2 separate regions of the Homo sapiens genome follow, and region 1 is reported to be linked to region 2. The links are microRNA targets in miRTarBase. Many come from high-throughput screens and were not tested one by one. Region 2 holds a microRNA gene; the other region holds the end of a gene's coding sequence.
Evidence for each region. The annotated mature microRNA hsa-miR-4430 reads AGGCUGGAGUGAGCGGAG and lies in region 2 at 7,096-7,113, shown strand. An mRNA with a match to its seed (bases 2 to 7 or 8) in the 3' UTR can be bound and repressed. Matches are read on the target gene's strand: a 7mer-m8 pairs with bases 2 to 8, a 7mer-A1 pairs with bases 2 to 7 and ends in A, and an 8mer does both.

Region 1 (12,276 bases), not on the chromosome of region 2:
TTCTTTCTTTCTTTTGGGACAGAGTCTTGCTCTGTCGCCAGGCTGGAGTGCAGTGGCGCAATCTCGGCGCATTGCAACCTCCGCCTCCTGGGTTCAAGCGATTCCCCTGCCTCATCCTCCTGAGTAGCTGGGATTACAGGCGCCTGCCAACACCCCCCGGGATAATTTTTTGTATTTTAGTAGACACGGGGTTTCACCATGTTGGCCAGGATGATCTCGATCTCCTGACCTCGTGATCCACCCGCCTCAGCCTCCCAAAGTGCCAGGATTACAGGCATGAGCCACCGTGCCCGGTCAAAAAGTCAGTGATTTTTAAATCTCATTTATACACATAGGAAAACGAATATGCTTCATTTGATAATTCAGTAAGATATGGCATTCAGTGAAACCAGAGGAAACAGATCTGGCTGTCATAGGAATTTAGATTAGTTTTTTTAATCCAAATTGAAATAAATTTGAAATAAATTCTGGTTTCTTCCTGGCAATTGGTGAACATTTTCAGAAATTCATCTCAGTAATATTTATGAATATGTATAAAGTACTTATTATACTTTACTATGAAAAAGTATACTTTTTTTCTTTTTTTTTGGTGGGGGGAGACAGAGTCTCACTCTGTTGCCCAGACTAGAGTGCAGTGGCAGGATCTCAGCCCACTGCAACCTCCACTTCCCAGGTTCAAGTGATTCTCGTGCCTGAGCCTGCCAAGTAGCTGAGACTACAGGCAAGTGCCACCACGCTTGGCTAATTTTTGTATTGTTAGTAGAGACGGGGTTTCACCATGTTGGCCAGGCTGGTCTTGAACTCCTGAACCTTGAGTGATCCACCCGCCTCGGCCTCCCATAGTAAGCCACCGCGCCCAGCCCAAATTTTGTAAATTCTTACGTTAAAATGAACTTCAAGCCCAGCACAGTGGCTCACACCTGTAATCCCAGCACTTTGGGAGGCCGATGCGGATCACCTGAGGTCAGGAGTTCGAGACCAGCCTGGCCAACATGGTGAAACACTGTCTCTACAAAAATACAAAAAATTAGCTGGGTGTGGTGGCAGGCATCTGTAACCCCAGCTACTCAGGAGGCTGAGGCAGGAGAATCACTTGAACCTGGGAGGCAGAGGTTGCGGTGAGCCAAGATCGCGCCATTGCACTCCAGCCTTGGCGACAAGAGCAGAAACTCTGTCTCAGAAAACAAAAAGAACTCCAAAAATTCTCAACTATTTTATGGTACCAGAATCTTTTTTTTTTTTTTTTTTTTGAGACGAAGTTTCCCTCTTGTTGCCCAGGCTGGAGTGCAATGGCACAATCTCGGCTCACCGCAACCTCCACCTCCCAGGTTCAAGTGATTCTCCTGCCCCAGGCTCCAGAGTAGCTGGTATTACAGACATGCGCCACCATGCCCAGCTAATTTTGTATTTTTAGTAGAGATGGGGTTCCTCCATATTGGTCAGGCTAGTTTCGAACTCCCAACCTCAGGTGATCCACCTGCCTCGGCCTCCCAAAGTGCTGGGATTACAGGCGTGAGCCACTGCGCCCGGCCTTATGGTACCAGAATCTCATTATAGATATTACTTGCAATAGATTGTTCACTGGTATGGTGGCAGTATTATGGAAACTTTCACTGTAGCAGTATTTGACCTATTTAAGACATATAGCTGCTCTCTTGAAGGAAGCAGTGGGGCAAGTTATAATTTAGCTGCTTGGATTATTTGCCGGCAGATTGCATATTAAGGTTGGTATCCCAGGTTATCTCAGAGGAAATATACCCCAAAGGAAAGATTTTAAAAGTGAATATTTTCATTATTTTTCATTTAAAATATAAATGTATGTCCTGTCCCCTTTATATAAAGGGAACTGTTACACAATCAAACAAACTACTAAGATACAAGATGTGTTCATCACTAAAATCCTATGCGGTAAGTATGTTGTTTCCCCCATCTTACAGATGAGGAAACGGAAGCACACCTTAATTTACCTGAGGTCACACAGCTGGAGCTGGCATTCAAACCCAATCATTGTGGCTTTAGAGTCAGCTCCTTAAATTTTTTACTAAACTATTATTTTTCCTCTGTAAGCAAACTTCAAATTTGCCGGAAAGAAACATTAAGAGATTATCTGTTTTCTCTTAAGTTTAATCATTTAAATTTAGGAATGTAAAATAGTGATAGCTTTGGCTTTTTAAATAACTAGTTCTAGAGTCTTTAGTTCCTTTCTTCAGCCTTTGTTCTGTTTTTTTTGTTCGTTTGTTTTCTGAGACGGAGTCTCGCCCTGTCGCCCAGGCTGGGGTGCAGTGGCGCGATCTCGGCTCACTGCAAGCTCCGCCTCCCGGGTTCACGCCATTCTCCTGCCTCAGCCTCTCCGGGTAGCTGGGACTACAGGCGCCTGCCACCACGCCCGGCTAATTTTTTTGTTATTTTTAGTAGAGACGGGGTTTCACCGTGATCTCGATCTCCTGACCTCGTGATCCTCCCGCCTCGGCCTCCCAAAGTGCTGGGATTACAAGCGTGAGCCACCGCGCCCGGCTCTGTTAATACGATTTGCAAAAGCATCAACCTTCTAAAATATAGTTGTATTCCTGAAATAGAGAAACTTTCCATTGACTTTATTATGTTAATAATAGCATACTCTGGCCGGGCACGGTGGCTCACGCCTGTAATCCCAATACTTTAGGAGGCCGAGGCCAGCGGATCACTTGAGGTCAGGAGTTTGAGACCAGCCTGGCCAACATGGTTGAAACCCTTGCTCTACTAAAAATACAAAAATTAGTCGGGCGTGGTGGCGGGCGCCTGTAGTCCCAGCTACTCGGGAGGCTGAGGCAGAAGAATCACTTGAACCCAGAGGCAGAGGTTGCAGTGAGCCGAGATCACACCATTGCACTCCAGCCTGGGCGACAGAGCAAGACTCTGTCTCAAAAAAAAATAAATAATAATAATAATAATAATAATAATAATAATAATAATAGCATACTCTGACCCAACAACCCAAAGCACTTTAAAATGTAAGCAAGTTGGCCAGGCGCGGTGGCTCACGCCTGTAATCCCAGCACTTTGGGAGGCACAGGCGGGCGGATTACGAGGTCAGGAGTTCGAGACCAGCCTGAGCAACATGGTTGAACCCCATCTCTACTAAAAATACAAAAATTAGCCGGGCATGGTGGCACATGCCTGTAATCCCAGCTACTCAGGAGACTGAGGCAGGAGAATCGCTTGAACCTGGGAGGTGAAGGTTGCAGTGAGCCGAGATCTGGCCACTGCATTCCAGCCTGGGCAATAGAGTGAGACTCTGTCTCAAAAAATAAAAAAAAAGTAAGCAAGTTAAGTCTCATTTATGGTTCATAAATAATAATAATGTAAGCAAAGATGTAATTCATGTTGTTTATAATAGTCATAAGCTAAAAACATAAAATAATAATACAAGAAAAACTGGTTAAATAATCGACTACATCCACGGTGTGATACTATGCAACCAGTAGAAATGATAAACATACATAAAATGGCATTTGATATTTCATTTCAGTGAAATTGATGTTATAAAATAGAATAATATGGCCCCATTATTATAAGTTTAGTTACATTTACAGATGTATACAAAAAAGTCTAGAAGGATATTCATGAAAATATTAACGGTGATTAGCTCTGGATGTTGGGATTACAAATTATATACTTAATATATTGTAATTACATGTATTTTAATTTTTTACTATAAGCATTTTACTTTTATAATCATAAAAAGAAAGAAAATATTTTTTTCATAAAGGACAACACATAGTATTTCCTGAAAGAAGGAGCAGTAGTATTTAGCTACAAATTAAAGCTTTCATAGCAAATGACATAAAAACTGGTATACATATATACAGTACCATAGAATTCAAAAGAAAAAGATAAAAACATTTCAAACAACTCTTTCTTAATAAGCTAAAACAGAGAGATTAACACAAACCTTTCTTAGTTTAGGTAAATCTGAGAAGCAAACCATGTTTAGAAGTTACAGCATGGCCATCTTCAATTTATTTTCTGAATTTGTCCCTTTGCTGGTATAGAGCAGATTCAGTTCAGTTGAATGTAGTGAGTGAGTCATCCATCAACTAAAATCCATGTCCCTTTCTGCTTATCCTTGCTTTTAAAACAGCACCATCCAATAGAACTTTCTGCAACAATGGAAATATTCTATCTGTGCTAGCCAATAAGGCAGCCAGTAGCCAAATGTAGCTATTGAACACTTGCATTATGGTTTGTGTGTCAGAGCAATTGAATTTTTAATTTTAAATAATTTTAATAAAAATGTAAAGAGCTGCATCTACCTAATGGCTGCTTTTTTGGACAGCACAGATAAAGAATGCTTATAATAGTCCTGATAACACACTGCAATCTAGAAGACTAAAGTCATGAGCCCCAAATTAAGCTGAGTGAATGATTCCTCCATAATTCAGAGATGTCAAATTTAAAATGACAGGAGGTATTTGTGTGCTGTTTGTATGCAACTTTTGCCACTGGGGGAACCTAATAAAATGTCATTGTTTTTTGTGCAATAAACCATGTTTCTAGAACCAAAAAAGTCTTTCTTACTAGATAATAACTTCTTGGTCATCTGCCTTAATAAATGGGTCATGTCCGATTTCATAGATAGATCCTGATTCTGTCTCCCATGTTCTGTTATTAACAATTACATTGTATTTTAGGTCATTAAAGGTCCCTTCAGAGCTAGTGATCTGGCAGGTTGAGCATAACAGATAAATACTTCTTCCCTGGGCTTTTTTGCCAACAATAGCTACTTCTCAGATTAAATACAAACATTTCACCAGGGACAAATATATATATATATATATATATATATATATATATATATATATATATATATATTTACATATATATTTTTATATATATATTATTTATATATATATATATTTGTATAGGCACACATACATGCACAATATATTCATGTTTCTATATTATGTGTTATCTGAATTACATATGTGTAACTCATAAATTATTAATAAACTCGAAACTTCCTCAACCTCGGTAGTCAGAGAATACATATTTAAGTGAAATATTATTTTTTAACTATCAAAATGCAAAATTTTAAAGATTTATAATACCTTCTTTTGGCAAAGTAGGGAGACACTGTTACTCTCATATCCTGTAGGTAAGAATATAAATGGATACAGCTATTTAAAAGGCAGTTTAAACCTATCAATATTAGTATAGCATTTCTGCTTTTGGATACTTGAAATATTCATTCAGCATAGACATTCAGAGACACACTGCACATGCTAGGATGTTCACATAGCACTGTTGGTAATTATACAAAAGCAGCAATAATTTAAATGTCTGACAGAGGAATGGTTATCTATGGTACATCTATATCATTCAGCAATTCAGAGAATAAAGATTTCTATGAACTAATAGAGAAAGGTCCCTAGGTCATGTTGTAAAGCAAGTTATAGAACAATACATGTATCACATTTATCCTGTTAAAACCTACATTTCATAAAAATATCTAATTAGAGGCTGGGCTCATGTCTATAATCCTAGCACTTTGGGAGGAGGCTGAGACAGGCGGATCACCTGAAGTCAGGAGTTCAAGACCAGCCTGGCCAATGTGGTGAAACCCAGTCTCTATTAAAAATACCAAAAATTAGCCAGGCATGGTGGCACATGCCTATAATCCCAGCTACCCGGGAGGCTGAGGCAGGAGAATTGCTTGAACCCAGGAGGCAGAGGTTGCAGTGAGCCGAGATGGCGCCACTGCACTCCAGCCTGGGCGACACAGCAAGACCCTGTCTCAAGAAAAAAAAAAATATATATATACACACACACACACACACACACACACACACACACACACACACATATATATTTAGCTAAAATCGATTAACAAAAACTTTTCCTAGTTGAGATCAATCTGAGAAGCAAATGATGCTTAGGAGGAGTTATACCATGGACACCTCTAATTTGTTCTTCAGATTTGTCCCTTTGAGGGTGTAGAGCAGATTCAGTGAAGTTCAATACAGTGGATGAGTTGGACATTAACTTAAATCCATTTTCCTTTCTGCTCATCCTACATAGAAAAATGTCTGCAAGGATACAGACCATACTGTTGTGACCACTGATGATGGTCAGCACTAGGGAAAAACAGCAGGTTTGAAGTGAGAAGGCAAAAGGAGATTTTTTTTTTTTTTAAGACAGGGTCTCACTCTGTCACCCAGGCTGGAGGGCAGTGGCATGATCATAGCTCACTGTAACCTCGAACTCCTGGGTTCCAGTGATCCTCCCACCTCAGCCTCTGGAGTAGCTAGAACTACAGGCAAGCACCACCACACCTGGTTATTTTTTATGTTTTTGTAGAGTTCTTGAATGTTACCCAGGCTGTTCTCAAACTCCTGGGCTCAAGCAGTCCTCCCACATTGGCCTCCCAAAGTGCTGAGATTATAGGCATGAGCCACTGCACCTGGCTGAGATTTTATCTTTTAACTTCTTGTTTGAATCTTTGTTTAACCAAGAACACACTCATAAGGCCAGGCATGGTGGCTCACACCTGTAATCCCAGCACTTTGGGAGGCTGAGGTGGGTGGATCACTTGAGGTCAGGGGTTTGAGACCAGCCTGGCCAACATGGTGAAACACCGTCTCTACTAAAAAATACAAAAATTAGCCGAGTGCAGTGGTTCACACCTGTAATCCCAGCACTTTGGGAGGCCGAGGTGGGCGGATCACCTAAGGTCAGGAGTTCAAGACCAGCCTGGCCAACATGGTGAAACCCCGTCTCTACTAAAAATACAAAAATTAGCCAGGCGTGGTGGCAGGTGCCTGTAATCCCAGCTACTCAGGAGGCTGAGGCAGGAGAATCACTTGAACCCAGTGGGTGGAGGTGGCAGTGAGCCGAGATCGTACCATCGCACTCTAGCCTAGATGACAAGAGCGAAACTCCATCTCAAAAAAAAAAAAAAATTAGGGACCGGGCACAGTGGCTCACACCTGTAATCCCAGCACTTTGGGAGGCCAAGGCGGGCAGATCGCCTGAGGGCCTGAGGTCGGGAGTTCGAGACCAGCCTGGCCAGCATGGTGAAACCCCGTCTCTACTAAAAATAAATAAATAAATAAATAAATAAATAAATAAATAAATAAATAAATAAATTAGTCAGGTTTGGTGGCGGCCACCTGTAATCCCAGCTACTCAGGAAGCTGAGATAGGAGAATCACTTGAACCCAGGAGGCGGAGGTTTCAGTGAACCAAGATCCGGCCACTGCACTCCAGCCTGGGCGACAGAGCAAGACTCGGTCTCAAAAAAAAAAAAATAATAATTAGCCAGATGTGGTGGCGCATGCCTGTAATCCCAGCTACTCTGGAGGCTGAGGTAGGAGAATTGCTTGAACCCAGGAGGCAGAGGTTGCAGTGAGCCAAGATCAGCCCACTGCACTCCAGCCTGGGAAACAGAGCGAGACTCCATCTCAAAAAAAAACAAAACAAAAAAAAAAACACTCATATTCCCATGTTTATACTTAAATTTAACTTTTTAAACAAATTTCTGATCAGTTTTTCTCAAAATACTAAAGTATTAACTTTTCTCACTATATCTAACTAAGTGTATATGCCCCTTCCAGATACAGTGACATGTTTAGATGGGTGTTTAATAAATACATTGATGATAAAAGAAAAAATTATATTTCCTATATTCAGATGACCCAAAACTACCATTTCCAAAAACATAATAAACCACAGTCTGAATTCTATACAGGAAAATGACACATGCTTCTCAGCTTTCAGGTATGACATTTTACCTTCTGTAAATAAATCCTACCCACTCCTAGGAGAGCCATGACCCACATGAAGGATGACAGTCTGATCACAGATGAGAATCTGAAGTCTAGGTATATAGTGTGCACCAGAAAGCCAGTGCCCGGTTCCTTGGGATCTTAGACACGGTATCAGAATCTTAAACTAGCAGTCCAGAAAATCCTCAGTCTTCTTCTATGAGATATTTCCACCATTCATGGTGTACCCCGCATAGATGTTTGTTCCTGTACTCCTATGATACCCTTCAGTGTTTGGGGAACACAGCATTGTTGGACCTATAGGGGAGACTACAGGTTTCCAAGTCATTATCTATGTTTAAATTCTGCTCCCCTCAGACAAGTACTTAATTCTTTAAGGGTTCCTTTAAGGGATTCTTTAAGATTACTCTAAGATGCAGAGTAATAACTACCTTTCCGGGTTGTTGATAATATTATCAATAAAGTGTGTAAAACACCTCAAACAGTAGTGATCTATCTCCTCAAACAGTGATCTATTTTAAAGTGATTATCAGGAGTCTGACACAGGTATAAAAAGTTTTTATTATCAGCATTGTACAGTATTCATAGATTTTATGAAGCATTCTCCAAAATATATCCTCCAAGGAGAGTAAGTCTGTTTTATAGAATACCATATGCCTGGGAAAGACCCAATCTCTAATTTTGTTTTGTTTTGTTTTGTTTTTTGAGACCGAGTGTCGCTCTGTCACCCAGGCTGGAGTGCAGTGGCGCAATCTCGGCTCACTGCAACCTTCGCCTCCCAGGTTCAAGCAATTCTCCTGCCTCAGCCTCGCAAGTAGCTGGGACTACAGGCACACGCCACCACGCCCGGCTAATTTTTGTATTTTCTTTAGTAGAGACAGGGTTTCACCATATTGGTCAGGCTGGTCTTGAACTCATGACCTCAGGTGATTTCACCCGCCTCAGCCTCCCAAAGTGCTGGGATTACAGGCGTGAGCCACTGCGCCTGGCCCCAATCTCTAGTTTTTACTACCCTTCTTTTCTCTCTTCTTCTTCCCTTTCTACATTAAGAAGCCCCTTCCTTAAATCCTAAGGTCCTTTTATAGGCAATCTTTGCAACTGATGAGTTTAATGCTGTTTTGTCCTCTATATAAAATTGTTAGCCTTTTCTGAGACTTCTCTGTTTCTTCATAGAGTCTTCCTTTTTTTTTTATTTCCTCCAGATGGCTCTTTTTATTAATTGACTTACAATAGGGGCAGGTCAGTTTGCTGGAGATAGGAAAATGTTGAAAAACACAGCAAATAAGACACAAGCTAAATATGCAGCAATTGCTATCCAAAACCTTGGATCTTTCAGCAGTGCTTTATCAAAGCAGCTAAACACCGTGTAGCCAATGGACATTCCAGCAAATCCACCTGCAATGTGAGCTGCAAAAGACACCTTGGGAGAAAAGGAGGGAAAATGGAAATAAGTGAAGACAATGCTAATTGTGTATTTCAGTTGCATCTCTCTTATTCAAACACAAATACCGTCACAGTTAAACAAGAGTCTTAAAGGTCTAGAGAACTAGGGGTAAGGCAAAAGAGACACAAAACTCCATGTGCACAGAGAGAAGGAGATACTCTGAAAGATACAAAGCTTAAAAATGTCATTTTCACCCATTCTTAGAGTACAAAAGACAGAGAAATTGTTTCTCATTCTTAATCATCATTGCATTTAAAATAATTCTATATAATGCCAACTAAGAGAATGGTTGAGTTGCCATGAGGGATCTCTATAGCAGCATAATCTGATTCCACATACATGGGGTTTCAGATTTAAAACACAAGTAATAACATACACAAGAAATACCCAAACAGAAACTACCAAATTCAAAGACAAATCACAGCAAAACTGGAAAATTTTGTCAATTTTCTTTATTGTCAACTTATAGAACTCAATCTTTCATTGCTGTTTTCCAATCTGTTTTTTTGTTTTGTTTTGTTTTTTGAAATGGGGTCTCAACTCTGTCGCCCAGGCTGGAGTGCAGTCGCATGATCACAGCTCACTGTAGACTCAACCTCTAGGACTCAAGCAATCCTCCCATCTCAGCTCCCCAAGTAGCTGGGACTACAGGCACATGCCACCATGCCTGGCTAAACCAACTGCTTTTTATTCTATGTGGACAGGAAAATCCATTCTCTCCTGTTTTTTGTTTTTTTGAGACAGAGTCACTCTGTCACCCAGGCTGGAGTGCAGTGGTGCGATCTCGGCTCACTGCAACCTCCGCCTCCCAGATTCAAGCGATTCTCCTGCCTCAGCTTCCCGAGTAGCTGGGATTACAGGTGACTGCCACCACGCCCAGCTAATTTTTGTATTTTTAGTAGAGACGGGGTTTCATCATATTGGCCAGGCTGGTCTCAAACTCCTGACCCTGTGATCCGCCGATCTTGGCTTCCCAAAGTGCTGGGATTACAGGCATGAGCCACCACGCCTGGCCATTCTCTCCTGTTTTGGAATAGCTACCAATATGGCAGGTGCAGTGAAGTAGAGCCAGTGATCAGGGCTGTGAGAGAGTTAAGTGGGAAGGACAATTCAAAAGTCTGATTTCCTTAAAAATTTTCTTAACTTCCAAATGGAAATTTGGCTGCCCTAAATCACAGCGTTGTAACCCCTATTTGATAACCCTTTTTGACAGTAAACTAATTTCTATTTTATAAAAGAAAGAAACTGAACTCACCGGAGACCCATCTTCAGGAACAAAGAACCTTCTATAGAGAGCAAATCCCATGTCCAACACAACTAGAAGGAAAAACACCCTGATAAAGGCTCAGAATCTCCACAGTAGTACACCAAATGTTTTTGGTTCCCCTCTAATAATAATAATACTAGCTATCATTTATTGATACTTAACTCTGTGACAGGTGCTTTTCTAAGAGATCTTTTAACTCATTAATCTTCATCACAACCCTGTGAAGTAGGAACTATCATTATCCCATTTTACAGATTTATTCATCCAACAAGCATTCATTGTCCTCTATGTGTCAGGCATTATTCTAGCTGGTAGATAGGCAGCAATGGACAGATCTAACAGCCCTGACTCATGGAGCTGACAAACTGTTGGGGGGTATGTGGGGGGGTGATTGGTAGGGAGGCAAACAAATAAGTAAAACATACAGTATGTCAAATAGTGCTAAGTGCTATGGAGAAAATACAAAGAGAAGAAGAAATAGGAATGCCAGTTGTCGAGTGTGATTTCCAATAGGGGTGTCAAGGAGGATCTCTTTGAGAATATGACGCTGGACAGAGGTAAGGGTCCAAGTCATGCTGCTATTTGACATAAGAGTGTTTCAGAGAGAGGGAAGACCAAGTACAAAGTCCCTAAGCAGGAATGTGCCTGGTGTGTTTGAAAAATACCAAAGCAGTTGAGCTGGCTGGATCAGTAGTTTTCAAAGTGGTTTTTACCAAGACCAGCAGCATCAGCTTCACCTGGAAACTTACTAGATATGAAAACTCTTAAACCCACCCCAGACCTACTGAACCAGAAAACTTAAGGGTGGGACTCAGCTTTCTGTTTTTGTTTTTGTTTTTGTTTTCAGAAGGTGAGTTGTACTCTCCTTAGTAGATTCCTACTTCCATGGCTGTGTTTTCCAACTACCAACTGTGGTAAAGTTGTTTCCAACAACTTTGTTTTAACAAGACCTCCAGGTGATTCTGGACTAGAGTTAGGGATAAGGTTGTGGGTGATGAGGTCAGACAGGTAGCAGGGGACAGATTATGTAGGGTCTATATGGGCCATTGTAAGGACTTCAACCTTTACTGAGTGATAGGAAGTCTTTGAAAGCTCTTGAGCACAGGAGTGACATGATAGATTTTGTTTGTTTGTTTATGACAGAGTCTCAACTCTGTCGCCCAGGCTGGAATGCAGTAGTGCAATCTCGGCTCACTGCAACCTCCGCCTCCCAGGTTCAAGCAATTCTCGTGCCTCAGCCTCCTGATTAGCTGGGATTACAGACATGTGCCACTATGCCCGGTTAATTTTTGTATTTTTAGTAGAGACAGCATTTCACCGTGTTGACAAGGCTGGTCTCCAACTCTCGAACTCCTGACCTCAGGTGATCCACCCACCTCGACCTCCCAAAGTGCTGGGATTACAGGCTTGAGCAACCACACTGATGGTTTTACAAAGATTATTCTAGCTGCCATATAGGAAGTAGACTATAAGGGAGCAAGAACAGGAACTGGAAGACCAGCTGGAAAAATACTATTGTAGCAATCGAAGTGAAGAAGGATGGTGGCATTTTATACATAAAGAAACCAAGACACCAAGACTCCACTCTCAGCCACCACACTAATTGCCTGTAATTACCATCGGGAGTTCTGAAGGTGTCAGGCCATGAAAGGAAATCATTCCATATTCTCCAATAAAACTGTGAGAGCCAGAAGTTAGGCAGTCGTCAAGTAAGTCGGATCTGCACTGCAAAAGGAGCTTCCGACTTCTTGGCCTAGAAGAACTCTGCCCTATATGTGTAGTGCTTGGAAACATCTCTTGCA
Region 2 (12,276 bases):
CGTGAAACTCCATCTCTACTAAAAATACAAAAAATTAGCTGGGTGTGGTGGCAGGCACCTGTAGTCGCAGCTACTCAGGAGGCTGAGGCAGGAGAATGGCGTGAACCTGGGTGGCGGAGCTTGCAGTGAGCAGAGATCGCACCACTGCGCTCCAGCCTGGGCGACAGAGTGAGACTCCGCCTCAAAAAACAAAAAACAATGTTTAAAACAAGTGGGAAGAAAACTACTTTGATTTTTTTTCCCCCAGAATTTCCTTGTAAAATTGGCAAGCCTTATATTTCAGTAAATAAGTAAATATAGATATAGATGTAGACTAAATATAGATATTGACCTTATACTGGATGCCAACTGTGTGCCTTCATCTTCACATTCTTCAGAATTTTATGTAGTTTGCATAGCATTCTCTGGAATTTATTTTTTTGTTTTGTTTTGTTTTGGTCTGGGCCAGTCCCTGGGAACCAGCTGCTTAAACCACTGGGTACAAGCAAAACCCTGTGGTCTCTGTGCACTTTCCCATCGGCACTGCTTCGATGGACATAAACCTGCAGGAGAAAGTAAACAGAGATCTGGATGGTGTTTGTTTTTAGTGTCAAGGAATGACGTCACTGCCTGAGACCATGACTTTGAGCAAATTGGTGGATGGGCACAGAAAAATCAAACCCTGGTTAAGAGGCCACATCATTAGCACACAGAGAACAGTATATGTGCATTTCAAAAGTAGAAAACATTAACCTTTTATGAACTTTGGGTAAACTGGATGGTGTTTGTCAAGGCCAAAAAAGTGCAGTTTGTAAAACATGCATGCTATGCTTGGGCCGATTATTTTTCTTTTAGACTAAATCTGGTGATAACAATTTTATTTATTTTTCTCCATCAGGTTGGCAAAGGCGCTTGCTTGTTTAATGTCAATGAGTTAGGGTTTCTTCCATTCCTTTTTTTGTTGCCATGGGTTCTAAGCTGTCCATCTAGGAGCCAACAGTTATAAAATCACAGATAAAAAATAACTTGGAAATGGCCAGTTGGGACTTAAAGGTGAATCTGTGAGATTCACTCTCCATAAGGGTGTGAATTTGCGGTGGGCTTGGGAAAGCAAGAAGGGGTTGAGTGTGCTGGCAACATGAGGGCATTAATGAGTCAGATTCTCCCCTCATCAAGTACAAGTAACTCTTTTTTTTTTTTTTTTTTTTTTTTTTTTTTGAGACAGTTTCACTCTTGTTGCCCAGGCTGGAGTGCAATGGCATGATCTCGGCTCACCACGACCTCCGCCTCCCAGGTTGAAGCAATTCAGCTGCCTCAGCCCCCCGAGTAGCTGGAATTACAGGCATGCGCCACCACGCCTGGCTAATTTTGTATATTTTGTAGAGACGGGGTTTGCCCATGTTGGTCAGGCTGGTCTTGAAATCCCGACCTCAGGTGATCCACCCGCCTTGGCCTCCCAAAGTTTACAGGTGTGAGCCACTGCGCCCAGCCCAAGTAACTCTTAAACTGGCTACTTATGGAAGGCTATGATCTTCTTCAGGATCACAAGAGGACCAACCAATTACTTTCAAAATCAAGAAAACACAATACAAACTTGTATGGTAGGCTAGCATTGCAAGTTAGTCACTAAGCTTGAATGAATGCATTTGGGACTTGGCAGTGGAAAACATGAAGACTGACTGGGGGCTTTACATCATATTTGCCTGAGAGCTCCACCACTGGATGGCAGTAAAAATCCTTGGATTCCCGTCTATTCTTTCATTTTCCTTCTACTCATTAGCTAGCCTTTTTTGTCCATTTAAAAGTGCCATACTCTTACAGTTAATTTTGACCAGAACACCTTAGTGTGATATGCATATGACATGTTAGGCTCAAGTTCCAAAATTTAAAAATAAGAAAAAAAAAAAGATAATTATGTGCATTATGGTTAAAACAAGATAAAGGGATTTGGATGATCACAAGAGTCAGGCAGTTTCTCCATTAGTTAAGATCAATACTCAGCCACTCCCATTTTTAAAATCACATTTGGTTCAAGGTGATTAGGTATTGATTACACAGGTCTTATGGGGACTTCAAACTTCTAAATGTGGGGGGAGAATAATGGTCTCAAAATAAGGACACAGGAGTTATTTTTTCACTGGTTATCTTCAGAATTGAACAAAAGGTTGTATAATCCCCAGTGTACACTTTCAAAAGAGGACCCATGGGCACTCAAAATTCTCTATGACCAAGGCCGGGCACTGTGGCTCACGCCTGTAATCCCAGCACTTTGGGAAGCCAAGGCGGGCAGATCACGAGGTCAGGAGATCGAGACCATCCTGGCTAACATGGTGAAACCCCGTCTCTACTAAAAGTACAAAACATTAGCCAGGCGTGATGGTGGGCGCCTGTAGTCCCAGCTACTCAGGAGGCTGATGCAGGAGAGTGGCATGAACCCAAGAGGTGGAGGTTACAGTGAGCCAAGATTGCACCACTGCACTCCAGCCTGGGCAACAGAGCTAGACTCCATCTCAAAAAAAAAAAAAAAATTTCTGTGTCCAAAAGTGAACTTATCATCTCAACTTCCCAGCTTATTCATCTACGCATTCATTCATTTACTCAACAAATATTTATGGAAGACCTACCAGACTAGTGCTGTGCATTGGGAATATAGCAGCACAGGCAAGGCTCCTGCTTCCATGGAGTTTAGATAATCTCTGCCTTGTCTGGTTGTCCAACTCACACTCTGAAAGTCACTCACTCCCCACTCCCTTCGCATCATCTCCCCTTCCATTGTCTTCCAGATAAATTTTTTTTTTTTTTTTTTGAGATGGTGTCTCACTCTGTCGCCCAGGCTGGAGTGTAATACAGTGGCACAATCTTGGCTCACAACAACCTCCACCTCCTGGGTTCAAGTGTTTCTCCAGCCTCAGCCTCCCGAGTAGCTGGGATTACAGGCGCATGCCACTGCATCCAGCTAATTTTTGTATTTTTAGTAAGAGATGGGGTTTCACCACGTTGGCCAGACTGGTCTCGAACTCCTGACCTCAGGTGATCCACCCACCTCGGCCTCCCAAAGTGCTGGGATTATAGGTGTGAGCCACTGTGCCTGGCCTCTTCCAGATAAATCTGCATGTCCCCTGCTTGCCTTCTCAGCCTCATCTTGGGCTGTGTGCCCTCTTGCTGTCTCCCTCTAATAACCCGACACACAGTCGCAAGAAATATCTTTTAATTCCGTGATTGTAACTCACTCTTTATCCCTTTGGGACTTGGCCACAGTTGGTTCTTGCTTGGAATACTTCTCTTCTTCTTCCTACCAATACTCCTTGGTCTGACTAAATGCCCCTTCAGGTGTCACATTAACTGTCACTTTTTCAAGGACACCTTGGTTATCTGGGTTCTCACTGCTAGCTGGCCGGTGGTTGGCAGCTGCAGAATCTCACATGGGCACGTGCTTTCTTGGACCATTCCTGCCACCATTGCAAGTGGGTCTTCTGGAAAGCAGACTGTGAAATGGAGATTAGCATGTAGGGATCGAATTAGGGAGTGTTCTTGGGAAAATACCCCTAGAAGAGAAGAGAAGAAAATCAATATTGGGTAGAAGAACAAGAAGGATTATGATACAATCTCAAAGACTTTCTATCTCATTATAACCTTCTAAAGTTCTGCTGCTTACAGGTTTTCTTTGAAACGAATTGCATTGTTGATATCAAGAGTATTATGCACGTTCCAGCATCAATTTCTTGGTGCATTAGCTCCCCATTGAATGACACATTGGATGAACACCACTGAGATGAATATCTCTGTCAAGGTTTCTGGAAATTTTGTTGTTCCTCTGCAGGAATACCTTTTATTCTTGTAAATTCAGTGGTTATACTTTAAAAGTTTTCCGATAAAATATTGTTTTTTTAAAAAAAAATTATCATTGAGATATTCTTTAGTCTGATTTTCCAGTATGATTTTTTCTTTAAAGTGCTTCATTAAAAAGCAGTTCTTTGGCCAGGCACGGTGGCTCACGCCTGTAATCCCAGCACTTTGGGAGGCCAAGGCGGGTGGATCACCTGAGGTCAGCAGTTCAAGACCAGCCTGGCCAACATGGTGAAACACCGTCTCTACCAAAAACACAAAAATTAGCTGGGCCTAGTGGCGGGTGACTGTAATCCCAGCTACTCAGGAGGCTGAGGTAGGAGGAGAATCACTTGAACCCAGGAGGCGGAGGTTGCAGTGAGCCAAGATTGCGCCATTGCACTCCAGCTGGGCGACAAGAGCAAAACTCTGTCTCAAAAAAAAAAAAAAGCAGTTCTTCAAGAATGTAACTATTGAAATAGAATCCAAAAAATGCCATAAGCTGAGACATGATAGAAATACCTATACTTTCACCCAAATGCATGGCCAATACTAAGTTGTTTCTTCATATCTTCCGTAATATTTACTATGTGACTTCCCAAAAAATTGCTGACAAAAGAGTGAATTTTAGTTTTTGGCCTTTTGTTTTATAATTATTTCAACATTTTTTGTTGTGGCAGGGAGAACCAGAGACCCCAATGGTTTGTGGCTTTTGTTTCTTAACCGTAAAACAAAAAACCTCAAAAGAAGTTTCTGAGCAATTATTAGTAGGTTTTGTGAAATTTCTCAAAAAGCTGCTGAAATTTTTCTTCCATTTTGAATGTTTGGCTTTCAAATATCTTGTTAATCATAATAACTTTATATTATTACTAGTTAACATCTTAAGACATAACATGCCAGCCAACTAGGAAGAATTTTATCATTAATGGCAGTGGATATAAATTCATAATTTAAATGGTCTTCTTGATAACTTTGGATTTGAAGGGACTACCTGCTGGTCTAATTATCCTACCATTCTTTTCTTTTAACCTCATATTGTGGCTGATGTAGAATTTATATTTAGAACAGAAGGGTTTGCTCTGCCATTTTCTTTAGGTTTATTCTGCTGTTGTCTTTCTTTCACCTATTTTTTTACAGAAATATTTTTAAAGCCAATTTTTCCAATATGAGGGTTAACTTAGTTAAAATTAGATAATATTATCTAAAAATCCCTTTGCTGGGCACATGTTAATGGAAATGTCCAGTCTCACAGGAAGCAATCAATTGAGCCAGCACTGTTATCCCTTCCACACTTTTTTTGAGACAGAATCTCACTTTGACACCCAGGCTGGAGTGCAGTGTCACGACAATAGCGCACTGCAGCCTTGACCTCCTGCGTTCTGGTGATCCTCCCACCTCAGCCTCCCGAGCAGCTAGGCCTACAGGTACACGCCACCATGACCGGCTGATTTATTTTTATTTTTATTTTTAGTACAGGCAAGTTCTCGCTATGTTCCCCAGGCTAGTCTTGAACTCCTGGGCTCAAGCGATCTGTCCATCTTGGCCTCCCAAAGTCCCGAGATTTCAGGAATAAGTCACTGTGCCTGGCCCCTTCCATACTTTTTTCTCCACAGGATATCTTGAAATCACTGGGACTTGGGCACTGTCATTATAGCAGTTAGCATACCCTGACTGAGAGAACATCAAGAACAAGCTTGAAAAGTTTGGGGTCCTGTTCAGCCACATCTCCCCATTCTGCACTTCTACAAGTGGCTTTTTGAACCTCAGTACAAAATTTTACCTTTGCTCCTATTAATTTCTCTTCTGTTGTTGGTCCCTTTCTTTAGCCTTATGTTAAGATGTTTTGAGATTCTGATTCTGACTTCCAGTATGGTTGCTGTCTCTTCCAAGTTGACATACACTCTCCATCTTTATTCAAGATATTAATGTAACTATTAAGAAGGATATCTCTTTAAGACAAAAAAAAAGTGCAATACAAAAAAACAACTTCCTTTTGCTGAGTTGCTGAGCCCCTTGTGAGGCTGACAATGGCAGGATGGTTTAGTCTGTCGTCTCCAGAGGGTTTCCTGCCAGGGGACTTCTGGATTTCAGGATCGGCCAACATGAGTCAAACAGCTCTTGGAGCTCTTTATTCTCAAACCTTCTCTGCAAATCAGAGCTGGAGATTTCAGGATTCCCTCCCCACATTCCTCATGACCAGTACCGCTCCCTATTTTCTCAATTTTTCATGAGTCCCTTCAAAGAGAAATAATTTAAATAAAAAGTCTTTCCCAGATTTACCTTTTGCTGATTTTCCATTTTTCCCAACTAGGCAACAAGACTTCATTTTGTTCACTGATGTGTCACACAGAGTATTTCAAATAGTTTGAAGCCAGAAGAAGCAAAAAGGGAAGATGCTAAGAGGTCACCAGGGCCGGGCGTGGTGGCTCATGCCTGTAATCCCAGCACTTTGGGAGGCCGAGGCGGGCGGATCACTTGAGGTCAGGAGTTCAAGACCAGCCTGGCCAACATGGTGAAACCCTGTCTCTACTAAAAATACAAAAATTAGCCGGGTGTGGTGGTGGGCGCCTGCAATCCCAGCTACTCAGGAGGCTGAGGCAGGAGAATCGCTTGAACCTAGGAGGCAGAGGTTGCAGTGAGCCGAGATCACACCACTGCACTCCAGCCTGAGCGACAGAGTGAGACTCCATCTCAAAAAAAAAGAAAAAAGAAAAGGCAACCAGGTTTCTGTTTTGGGGGGCTACATTGAAGAAATCCAGTGTTTCCTACCTGCTTTCCATGGTGGCGGCGGGGGGGAAATCTGAATGAAAAAAGAGATTAGATCCATCCTTGAGCATGGTGGGTTTGAGGTGCCTGGAAACATCTACACAGAGATGCTGAAAGTCCATGAAACTGACTAGTCTGAAGCTGAGAAGGCGGACTGGCTTAGTGCTCTGCAATGTGCAGATAGAATATCTATGGATACTGAGTCAGGGCTCTCACAGTGTTGGTCTCAAGGCAATCCTGGTCCTTAGAATAGACATGGAAAAAGGCACAAGGCAGAAAAGGCCCTCTTTCTTTCCATGTCTATCTCCCTCTATGATCATAGACAACATGCGTTAAAAATCATATTATAAGCTGCTCTTAGAACTTGATCGCTTCAGCTCACAAGTTCAAGGCAAGTCTCGGCAACATAGCAAGACCCCATCTGTACGAAACATTTTAAAAATTAGCCAAGCATGGTGGCATGTGACTGTCATCCCAGTTACCCGGGAGGCTGAGGTGGAAGGATCACCTAAGCCCAGGAGGGTGAGGCTGGAGTGAGCGGAGATCGTACCACTGCACTCCAACCTGGTGACAAAGGGAGACCTTGTCTCAAAAAAACAAAACGACTCCCACCTCCAATAAAAAACCCTCATCAACCCCAAATCTAGACAAGTAATGTCCACTTTTGCCTGAGATTTTTTTTTTTTTTTTTTTTTGAGGCAGAATCTCGCTTTGTCGCCCAGGCTTGAGTGCGGTGGCACGATCTCGGCTCACTGCAACCTCCACCTCCCAGGTTCAAGTGATTCTCCTGCCTCAGCCTCCCGAGTAGCTGGGACTACAGGCGCATGCCACCATGCCTGGCTAATTTTTTGTATTTTTAGTAGAGACAGAGTTTTACCATGTTAGCCAGGATGGTCTCAACCTCCTGACCTCACGATCTGCCCACCTTGGCCTCCCAAAGTGCTGGGATTACAGGCGTGAGCCACCGCGCCTGGCCTTGCCTGAGGTTTTTAAATCAGCTTTACCCATCCTACTGACTGGGGGAGGGTAGCGGGTAGGTGGATGGGTTGATAATTTCCACCTCCATAGCAATCACCCTAAGCCTTCTATCTTGTTCCAGTCCTACTCTTATTTTGCTTATGTCTCTGCCCACCTTCAACCTCCTAACTTTGTGGTCACTCTTTCAAATTCTGTCTGTGGTCTTTGCATTTGGTATTTGAACTTGATCTCCCTGCTATTTGAACCTTCAGTTACCCCCAACCTCAGTTACCATCATAGATTTTTCTTTGGAAGAAATACCTTTTATTAGTCAGGATCCATTCAGCAGACAGAAGCCACACCAGGTAAAGGAAAAGGAAAATTTTAATATGAAGAATTGCAACTAGGTAAAAAGCCATTAGCTAGGTAACTGAGAAGGGAAAAAAGATCTCTAAAGTATCACAGAGGTAAGTGGCAACTGCAGTCATCAGCTACCACCCTTTCAACTGAGGGAAAAGAGGGAAGAGATTGGAATTATTAAACTTGGAAACGTAGAGTAGGAGTCTTGGAGACTCAAATTTTCTGAGGAGTTGGTACTGGCTGGCTGGGGTTAATGTCTCTGAGTGGGTACAAAGGAGCGTGTTTTATAAATGGGACAAAATTGAAAAGCAGATTCAGCTGCTGCTGTGAGAAGGCCGTGCCTCTGCCCATTTGAAGAAGCTTTGCTCAGGTGACATCACAGGAATAAGAAGTAGACAGGAGGCAGCAAATTCTCTCTTCTTCCTCCAGCCTTGCAGGCTCCCTCTACCACCCCCTAAAGAGCCTGAAAGGTATCTGGCTGGAAAAATAGAAATGTCGTTTGCAGTTTCTGTCCCAGCAACCCAAAGCGAGGTATAGAAGTGTATTTGAATTTGAAAGATAATAATGCTGTAAGGTCACTGTTTCTGACCTTAGCCAGCTCCCACTCCTCCCCAGCTAATTACTTCCCACTCCTGCCTCCAGTAGAGAATGACATATTTACCATTCATTTCCCACTGTGTTCTCCAAGTCTCTGCCCTTGCCCTGGCAATTGTAAGCAAATTGTTACTATCACTTTCCTTTCCTGATTCCACATTACTGCATGAGTAAGTTACAGTGCTCTTCAAGCAGGAGTCCACCTTGCTCTTTCAGCATGGTGAAGACAGATGATCTGCCTTACAAGCAGCTGCAGATCTTTTCCTTACCTCGAATCCTTTCTTCAGAGAAATTTGGAGGTAATTCCGAGTTTCTCTTGGGCTCCCTTCAGCAGCTTCATTTACTCAGGCTGTGGTCTTGTTATTTAATGTTGCATAGCAAATCACCCTAAATTGTAAAGGCTTGAAACGAGAACAAGCAGTTGTTGTCTTTTATGGTTTCAAGGCATCGGAAATTAGGAAGCAGGTTGGCTGAGCTGGGTTGAGGTCTCTCATGAGGCTGTAGTCACGTGGTGGATGAGGCTGGGGTCATCTTGAAAGCTCTGGCACCTGGGCCGGGAAGACTCAAGAAGCTGGGGATAGGAACAACTGGGGCTCCTTAGGTATCTGTCTACTTATTTAGACTCTCCAAGTGGTCCTTTTCAGAGTATCTTGATTTGTACATGGAAGCCCATGCCCCACAGAGCAGTTCTCCCCAGAGAAGCCAGGAGAAGCTGTATGTCTAACTTCACTCAGAATTATCCTCACTTCTGCCACATTCTGTTCATCAAGGCGGTTACAAAAGCCCACCCAAGTTCAACAGGAGGGAACATAAACTCTACTATTTGATGGGAAGAGTGTCAAAGAATTTGCAAGCACTTTGAAAACCACAAGCGGCACCTCTGGCTTAGGGTTTGTGGGAAACTCTGAACCATTGTTTTTCTCATATCTAGAATTATACTCTTTCAAACAGGCAGGATTCCTGACTATACTATGTGGCATGCTCTCCTTCCTGCACATGAATATGTAAAACAATAGAAAGAAGGGACATTCAGCCTGGACACTACAGTCCTCATGCTGGTCCAGGATCAGAGATACAATCATCGGTGCTTCCTGACTGGTCCCAGGAAGACCTTTTAGGATTGTTGCCTGAAGAGTTAATTTCCATGTCAAATCTACAAAGCTCTGGGGCAGACCGCAAGCCACTGCAGCTGGTTATATTCGCCACTCTCTGCTGGCACCTCCAGGAGGGCACATAACTGTCCATGTATTATGCTGGGGCATATCACATCAAATATGGGGTCTGGCCTGAGCAGCAAACATCCACTACTGGGAAAATGAGGCTGATCAGGCTCCATTCATGAAGATCAGAGCAACTGGTGCCTTCCTACAGGTTTGAGCCATGATAGAATTAGAGGTATGAGTGGTAGCACCAGATTTCTGTATATGGCTTGGGAGTAACAAGTGGGTTGGGAAGGGGAGCTAAGGAGTTTGCCTGGAAGCTGCTTTCATATAACACAAATCCTATTTTACTTTGAGTGTATGTTTATTTGGGATAACTTCAGGGGTGGAGGCCAGTGGATGTCATGGGTGCCAAAAGCCTACACAGGTCACCTATTGGTGCCATTATTTGGGCCACTATGATGTTTTAAAAATCAAGCCATGGTGGCCAGGTGCGGTGGCTCACTCCTGTAATCCCAGCACTTTAGGAGGCCGAGGCGGGCGGATCACCTGAGGTCAGGAGTTCGAGACCAGCCTGGCCAATATGGGGAAATCCCGTCTCTACTAAAAATACAAAAATAAGCCAGGCGTGGTGATGCATGCCTGTAATCCCAGCTACTCGAGAGGCTGAGGCAGGAGAATAGCTCGAACCTGGGAGGTGGAGGTTGCAGTGAGCCAAGATCGCACCACTGCACTCCAGCCTGGGTGACAGAGTGAGACACTGTCTCAAGAAAAAAAAAAAAAAAATCAAGCCATGGCTAAAGAAGCCTAATGACCTATTAGCAAACGTACAGACCTCAGACCTCCATATACTTCCCTGCCTTTCCTGTTCCTAACAACTTTGAGATCCTTACCACATTCCTGCTCCTTATCAACCCTGAGATCCTTACCACATTCCTGCTCCTTATTAACCTTGAGATCCTTAGCAATTATTTCCGGGAGGCTTGCATCATGGAGATGATGTGCACCAGGAGAGCATCCTCACAGTGTTACACAGCAGTTAGGAGGCATGTTTTTGCTGCATGGGTGTGCTTGATTTTTGAGCCTAAGACTTCCACAACTCCACTGACACAACTTGTGTTGACTGTTAATAAGACTCTCCACCTCCCCCCTGGAAGAACCAATGTTCTTTTTAATGAATACGAACAACAACTCTTCCCAACCACCCACTGCATCTAAGATAGTTCTTCTCCACACTTGTATCCATTGTCTTATCCCTGATGCCTGTAACTACTCTTTGGCACCTGGTCCACAGATACATGAAATTGTATCTTTAGAAGGCAGGGAACATGGTCTAGATCTTGAGGTGACCTGTGGTCTGAATGGTTGTGTCTCCCTCAGATTCATATGTTGAAACCTAATCACCAAAGTGATGGGATTAGAAGGTGGGGACTTTGAGACGTGATGAGGTCCTGAGGCCTCTACCCTCATGAATGGGATTAGTGCATTTATAAAAGAGGCCCCAAGGAGCTGCCTTGTCCCTTCCACCATGTGAAGATGCAGCAGGAAGGTTCCATCTATGAGAAAGCAGGCCCTCACCAGACACCAAATCTGTAGGCATCCCCTTCCTAGCCTCTAGGAGTGTGAGAAATAAATTTTTGTTGTTTATAAGCTACCCAGATTTTGATATTTTATTATAGCAGCCTGAACAAAGACAGAGGCAAAAAGCCACAGCAATAAATGAAAAGTCACATCGGGCCGGGCACGGTGGCTCACGCCTGTAATCCCAGCACTTTGGGAGGCCGAGGTGGGTGGATCACGAGGTCAGGAAATGGAGACCATCCTGGCTAACAGGGCGAAACCCCATCTCTACTAAAAATACAAAAAAAAAAAAAAAAAATTAGCTGGGCGTGGTGGCGGGCGCCTATAGTCCCAGCTACTCTGGAGGCTGAGGCAGGAGAATGGCGTGAACCCGGGAGGCAGAGTTTGCAGTGAGCCGAGATCACACTACTGCACTCCAGCCTGGGCGACAGAGCGAGATTCCGTCTCAAAAAAAAAAAAAAGTCACATCGTAGGTGTGTCTCTCTGTCTGATAATGAGTGTGGCCTTTGCATTGTCCCTGCAGTTTTGTGAATGCCAGTAAGTGGTATACTGTGAAAACTCATGGACCTGCATGATACCGTGCTTGCAGAGAACTATTGTGAGGAGCTTCCAAATGCTTTTCACATGCCCATACTTTTAAAAATATATCCAAATAATAGGTGTGTGGCCTACTGGGTAAAAAGAAGATTCTGCTTTACTGGGAGTCAACTGACCTTAAACCCCATCCTGCTTTCCACAGAGCTGAGGGCATCTCTTTCTTGGCAACCTGTAAACCTTGATTGTGTAGTTGTTAGGAACTGCCATAGGGCTAGGGCAGTGGGGACAAATGACCACAAACTGGATGCCTTAACTCAGCAGAAATGTGTTCTCACAATATTGAAGGCCAGAAGTCTGAAATCAAGATGTTGGCAGGACTGTGCTCCCTTTAAAGGTCCTACAGGAGAATCCTTCCTTGCCTCTTTCTAACTTATGGCGGCTCCAGGTATTCCTTGATGTTCCTTGAAGTGTAGCCACATCACTCCAGTCTTTTCCTTTGTCTTTACATGGCCTTCTT

Region 1: miRTarBase lists RHBDL2 as a target of hsa-miR-4430. Seed matches in the 3' UTR shown: 7mer-m8 at 8,495-8,501.

Annotation. Positions count from the first base shown.
Region 1 is chr1:38,877,501-38,889,776 of GRCh38, forward strand. RHBDL2 (rhomboid like 2) reads right to left here. Exons shown (of 8, transcript NM_017821.5): 7 at 10,463-10,524; 8 at 8,307-9,183. The coding sequence ends at 9,004. GJA9 (gap junction protein alpha 9) reads right to left here and starts at 4,087. Exons shown (of 2, transcript NM_030772.5): 1 at 3,932-4,087. GJA9-MYCBP (GJA9-MYCBP readthrough) reads right to left here and starts at 4,126. Exons shown (of 3, transcript NR_037637.1): 1 at 3,932-4,126. RefSeq lists a silencer at 2,127-2,311.
Region 2 is chr2:33,411,424-33,423,699 of GRCh38, forward strand. MIR4430 (microRNA 4430) reads left to right here and starts at 7,093; the gene lies at 7,093-7,141.